Linked DNA regions of Homo sapiens: region 1 is linked to region 2. The links come from fine-mapping of genetic effects on gene expression. A gene starts in region 2. The other region holds a variant in brackets. All regions are shown on one strand. Distances are from middle to middle.

Region 1 (2,902 bases), 37 kb after region 2:
CCAGTGTTGGAACCAGCATTTACATTCAGGCCTATGTGAACTCAAGTTCAGAGCTTTTATTTCTCCAGCAGGCCAAGGCACAAAAAATTTTAAAAACAACTTGAGTCCCATCTTCCTGTTGGCATAGTGTCTGGCAGACATCTTTTTGATTCGTTCTGTCCATCTGGAAACACTGTGGCTGACTCTGTGTTGGCAGCTCCCAGGCCCTTGGAGGGGAGGTTCAAAACTCACATTTTTTTTTAACTTAAGAGAATTCTGGCAGAGTACACATAAAAGTTGCCATTTTAACCATTTTAAAATGTTTTATTTATTTAGGAGACAGTCTCACTCTGTCACCCAGGCTGCAGTGTAGTGGTGCAATCTCGGCTCACTGCAACCTCTGCCTCCTGTGTTCAAGTGATTCTCCTGTCTCAGCCTCGCAAGTAGCTGGGATTACAGGTGTGTGCCAACACGCCTGCCTAATTTTTTGTGTTTTTAGTAGAGATGGGGTCTCACCATGTTGCCCAGGCTGGTCACAAACTCCTGAGCTCAGGCAATCCGCCCACCTTGGCCTCCCAAAGTTCTGGGATTACAGGCGTGAGCCCTGCACCTGGCCTTAAAAAGTGTATAATTTAGCAGCATTTAGTACATTGAAAATGCTGTGCAGGCTGGGCACGGTGGCTCATGCCTGTAATCCCAACACTTTGGGAGGCTGAGGCGGGTGGATTGCTTGAGCCCAGGAGTTCAAAACCAGCCTGGGCAACATGGGGAGACCCTGTATCTACAAAAAAAAAATACAAAAATGAGTTCTTGTGATGGTGTGCCCATGTAGTTAGCTACTTGGGAGGCTGAGGTGGGAGGACTGCTTGAGCTCAGGAGGTTGAGGCTGTGGTGAGCGGAGATCATGCCACTGTACTCCAACCTGGGTGACAGAGTGAGACCCTATCTCAAAAAAAAAAAGAAAAGAAAAGAAAAAAAAAGAAAATGCTTCTTGACTGTCACCACCCCCCAGTTCCACACCGCTCCTCAGTCCCTGACTCCCAGCCCCTGGCAGCCAGCAATCTGCATTCTGTCTCTAAAAATCTCCCCATTCTGAACATTTCCTATAAATGGGATTGTACACTATATGGCCTTTTGTGTCTGGCTTCTTCTACTCAGCATAATGTTTTCAAGGTTCATCCATGTTGTAGCATGTGTCGGTATTTTGTTTCTTTTTATGAGACTGAATAATATTCCATTGTATGGATATACCCACATTTTGTTTATCCATTCATCAGTGGTGGACATAGGGGTTGTTTCCACTGTTGGGGTTGTGAATAGTGCTGCTGTGAACATTCTTGTGCAAGCTTTTGTCTGAACAAGTGTATTTAATTTGTTTTAGTCTATACTAAGAGTGGAATTTCAGGGTCCTGTCGTGCTTCTGTGTTTAGCTTAAGGTGGAACTGCCAAACTTCCACGGCAGCTGTACCCTTTTACATTCCCACTAGCAATGTGTGAGGGATCTCATTTCTCCACATCTTCACCAA[C/A]ACTTATATTTCATTAAAGATTTTTTATTATAACCACCCTAGTGGGTGTGAAATGATAGCTCATTGTGGTTTTTATTTGCATTTCTTAATGACATCAATCATCTTTGCCCTTCACTCTTTGGGGGGTCACAGGAAGGCCTCTCTATGCTATGCCTCCATGCCTCAGAGTCATCTGTCTAGGGGTGGTGTGAGGGTTAAATGAGAAAATCATGTGAAGAACTCAGCATCTACGCCAGGCACATAGTAGGGGCTCTTAAGACCAACTCAGGCAGTCCCAGGCCTGCCCCTGTCAGCTGGTAGGGAGGCTGGCCACTCAAAGGACCTCCCGGCTCTGACCAACGCGTAAGTTAGAGCTGCTCCCACGGCCTGGCAGTCCCCTCTGCCCACTCTGCCTCCACTGTCCTGGACTTCCTGGGGAACTGTGATCTTTCAGAGGCTGGGATGACATTTATGGAAGGTGGCAGGTCCCCTCCAGCCCTTTTCCATTTTCATGGACCCTCCTGGCCCCTGGGTGCCTTCCCTTCTAGGTGGTCTCTCAGCACTGCCCTCTGCTACTGGAGCATGATGGGAAGTGCCTGGAAATCTATCCCCTCCATGGTGGCCCTTAGCCAATGACTGAGGTGCAGGAGAGTGAGGTCCCAGCTCCCTTGCCTGGGGCGAGGACAACCCTGAGGTGTAATTTACACTCCCAAGTTCCCCTGCGAGATCAGGCAGAAGTCACCCTCTGCAGAATTTTGCCTGAATCTGCACCCTTCTTGGCCTCTTACTTTCTTGTCTTGCTCCCCGAGTCCCTCTCCAGTTTCCCTGGGAGCACTCCCAAATCATTTAGCTATGAATCCTCATCTCAGGATCTGCTTCTGGGGAACCTGATCTAAGACATGGAGCACCTACTGTGTGCCAAGCCCATGGCAAATGCTCAAATAGACAAAGATAAATAAGATGCAGTTCCTTCCCCCAAAAGAGCGCATGACTTGGTTGGGGTGGTCCTGATCACAGTAGTAATGCTAATAGCCCATGTTGTGCACCTTCTATGTGCCAGGCCCTAGGCTGAATGCTTTACATACATTAGTTCATTTAAACTTTCTAGCTTTTTCCGGTTCTAGGTGCTTTAGCAGCTGCGGCTTAAGGTGCAGACATGGCAACGTCAAGAACCACAACACACACAACCAGTCCCCAAAATGGCACAGAAATGGCATCAGGAAACCCCGATCACAAAGATACAAATGTCTTAATGGGGTGGACCTCAAGTTCCTAAGGAGCATGCACCTTGCCAAGAAGCACAACAAGAAGGGCCTAAAAAAGATGCAGGCCAACAATGCCGAGGCCATGAGGGCACGTGCTGAGGCTATCAAGGTCCTCGAAAGCCCAAGGAGGTTAAGCCCAAGATCCCAAAGGGT
Region 2 (2,902 bases):
CTCCCAAAGTGCTGGAATTATAGGCATAAACACTTTTTAATGAAAACTGAGGTTCAGACAGGTTAAGTAACTTGTCAAGGTCACACAGCTGAAGAATAGTAGAGCTAGAATTTGAACGCAGGTCTCTAAGACTCTGCTATACTTGGAGAGAACTTGAATGATGTCCAAGGGGGTTCTTAGTTACCCACTGCCTGCCTTCTGCCTTGCCATGTCCCCATCCACCCACAGGCCAAGACTGCACTGAGTGAGCCAACAGCAGGCCCCAGCATGTGCCACCTGGGGCATGCCAAGGCCTGGACCCTCTGGTGCCCTGGAGGACAATCACGCTGCCAGCACACCCCCACTTGAAGCCTGGCTGACACTCCCACTCCCCACCTCACCCTGGCCTGGGAGGCAGGATGGGCCCCTCTTCAGCAGGTGTTGGGCACAGCCTCATTGCTCCCCGGCTGCTGCAGACTGGTAATGGGTAGGCAAGCCCCAGCCCCCCAGGGCGGTGGAGTGCTCAGGCTTGCCCCGAGCGGCCAGACCTCTGCCCAGGGGACCCAGGCAGGGGGCAGCACAGCGCCCCAAGGGCAGCCAGCCCCTCTGACCTCTCCTCCCCACTTCCCAAGCGTCCTTTCCTTTTCTGGGGAACAAGGTGCCAAGCTTTGGGACTGTCCGCCTTAGGCGGTCAAGACAGCCAGGAGGGACAAAGCGGCGCCCCCTCCCCACAACAGGGCCTTTGCCCCACTCTCGGTTTCGCGTCTGAATCTTTTCCCCACCGCACCCTCCAACGCAGGCCCGGGCGGCTCATGAATGAACTGCACTGTGTGGGGCGCAAGGAGAGGACACGCTCCCGGGGCCGGCCGCCTCTCCAGCCCGCCGACCAGTCAGTCCCCAGAGCCGGGGGCAGCGGCCGGCCTCGTGCCAGCACCTGCGAACCCTGCCCTTGCCCGAGCCCGAGCCCTTACCCCGGACCGGCTTCGGGTGTACTCGCCCCCGGGAGCAGCAGAAAAAATAAAAGGCACAGAAGGCATCGGACTTGGCGACCCCGGGGTCCAAAACTCGGGGGCGGGGGCGGCTAGTTCCCCAAACGGCGGCGGACAGGCGGGGCGCAGCTGGCACCCCCGAGGGTCGCGCAGGGGACGCGCACCTGCACCGGGCAGGTGGGAGAAGAGTGGCACTCGGGGGCCGGGGGCGGGGGTCCCACCCTTTGGGATCTCCCCGGGGCTGGGGAGAGCCGGCGGCGCGTATCTGGACCTCCGGCAGGGGTTGGAGGACTCACATTTGGCTCGGGATGGTGCGGGGTTGGGGGCAGCGCGCGCCACCCCTGGGTCCCGCGGGCCCGGGCACCTCTGGGTCCCGCAGGAGGTTGAAGGGAGGGGACGCGCAGCTGAGTCCAGGTTTTTTCTTTGGGTGGTGGTGGGATCTTCGAAGAAAAGAGCGAGGGCTGGGTAGGGGTCGCGTACTCACCCCCAGGCGCAGACTCGGCTCCGGCTCGGAGCCCCGGGTTGGGGCGGGGCGGGGCTGGGGGAGGGGGAGGGGGAGTCGCTGGGCGGCTCGAGCTCCGGGCTCCTGCGGCGGCCGCGGCAGTGTATGGGGGAGGGGGAGCGGGGGGAGGGAGGGGGAGGGGGCGGAGCCCCGCAGGTCCCGCCCCGCACGCCGGCGCACGCAAGGTGCGCGCGCACTCTCAGATCGCGTCCGCCGGGCTGGGCCTGGCGCGCAGGCGCTAGGAAGAGGCCGCGTGGGGCGAAGGCGGCGCTTGGCTGGTGGGGCCCGCGGCGGGATTTTCCCGGGCGGCGAGAGCGGTATGGTGGGGGGCAGGGGTGGGCGTTAAGTCCTCATTCCCTCCTTCTCCTCTTCCTTTCTCTGCAGTAGGGGAGGCCCACTCCCCGGGGTGAGTGAGGAGAGGCCAGAGTGGGAGGCAGAGCGTCAGTGGGAGGGGTCCCGACGGGGAGGGGGGGGTCCCGACGGGGAGGGGGGTCCCGACGGGGAGGGGAGGCCCCTTACCCGGATCCTCCTCCCTTCCGCTCTCCGTGGGCTGCTTCTGCGACCCCCAAGTCCGTGGCCGGCGCTCACCTGCTTTCCCCGGGTTGCGGCGTCGACTTGGGGAGGGCGGGCTGCGTTCAGCCGTCGCTGGTCACTCCGGAGCGTCTCCTCCGGCTTCTCCGCTTTCCGCGCTCCCCTCCCCTTTCCCAACTTAGGTCTGGAGATGAGTTAGCCAGACGCCTCTGTGGTGTGAGGATTGAGTTTTTGCTTTCACTCTGTCAACGCTGATGAGTGCGCCCTCCCCCAGGCCAGGGGGTTCCCTGGTTTCTTATTTCACCAGAGACTGCATCTACCAGTGATTAAGACTGGAAAGATGAAGGGAGAGACTGAGACTCTTTCTATATATCACCCACACAAATAGATCATAAAGGCACAACGGGCACCAACCTGGTCATTTAATTTCTGGTTCCTGGAGGGGACAAAAAGGAAGTATTGCTTTCCACAGCCGACGATAAATGAACTTTGCCACCGTAAGAGACGGACGGGACTGAATTTATAAAGAGGTTAAAAGGGCATATGACAGACACCTCAGGCTACTTGGGAAACTCTGGGAGTTTGGGAGATAATTAACTCTCAGGGCTGGTGGTGGTGGGGAACTGCCACTGCTGAACAGAAGGACACTGCCCACCTGGGGGGTTTGGATCTTGTAGTTGGTCAGCGTCTCTGCTGTATGCTGGATTTTCAAGAGTTCATTAGTAGCTTGTGGAATGCAACTGTAAGGTTTGATTTATTGCAGTGTTTTTCAAACTGAATCCTATTGGTGAGTTGGAAATCAGTTTAGTAGATCACGGCCACTTGAAATAGAAAATATCAGAGGGTGTTGCACTTAGGGTATTGTTTCTTGACACTTCAGGTGTACACACACGTGTGAGTG

The links.
Region 1: its variant is fine-mapped to the expression of MRPL14 in aorta (GTEx, PIP above 0.99).

The regions. Positions count from the first base shown.
Region 1 is chr6:44,089,446-44,092,347 of GRCh38, reverse strand. It overlaps the pseudogene RPL29P16. Among named protein-coding and RNA genes, the nearest start is that of SCIRT, 16 kb to the right of the region's middle. The variant C/A (reference allele first, on the strand shown) is at 1,506.
Region 2 is chr6:44,126,229-44,129,130 of GRCh38, reverse strand. It overlaps MRPL14 (mitochondrial ribosomal protein L14), which reads left to right and starts at 1,679. Exons shown (of 3, transcript NM_032111.4): 1 at 1,679-1,787. TMEM63B (transmembrane protein 63B) reads right to left here and starts at 1,577. Exons shown (of 24, transcript NM_018426.3): 1 at 1,453-1,577. RefSeq lists silencers at 897-1,056, 1,237-1,346, 1,387-1,786, 1,807-1,856, 1,887-1,946.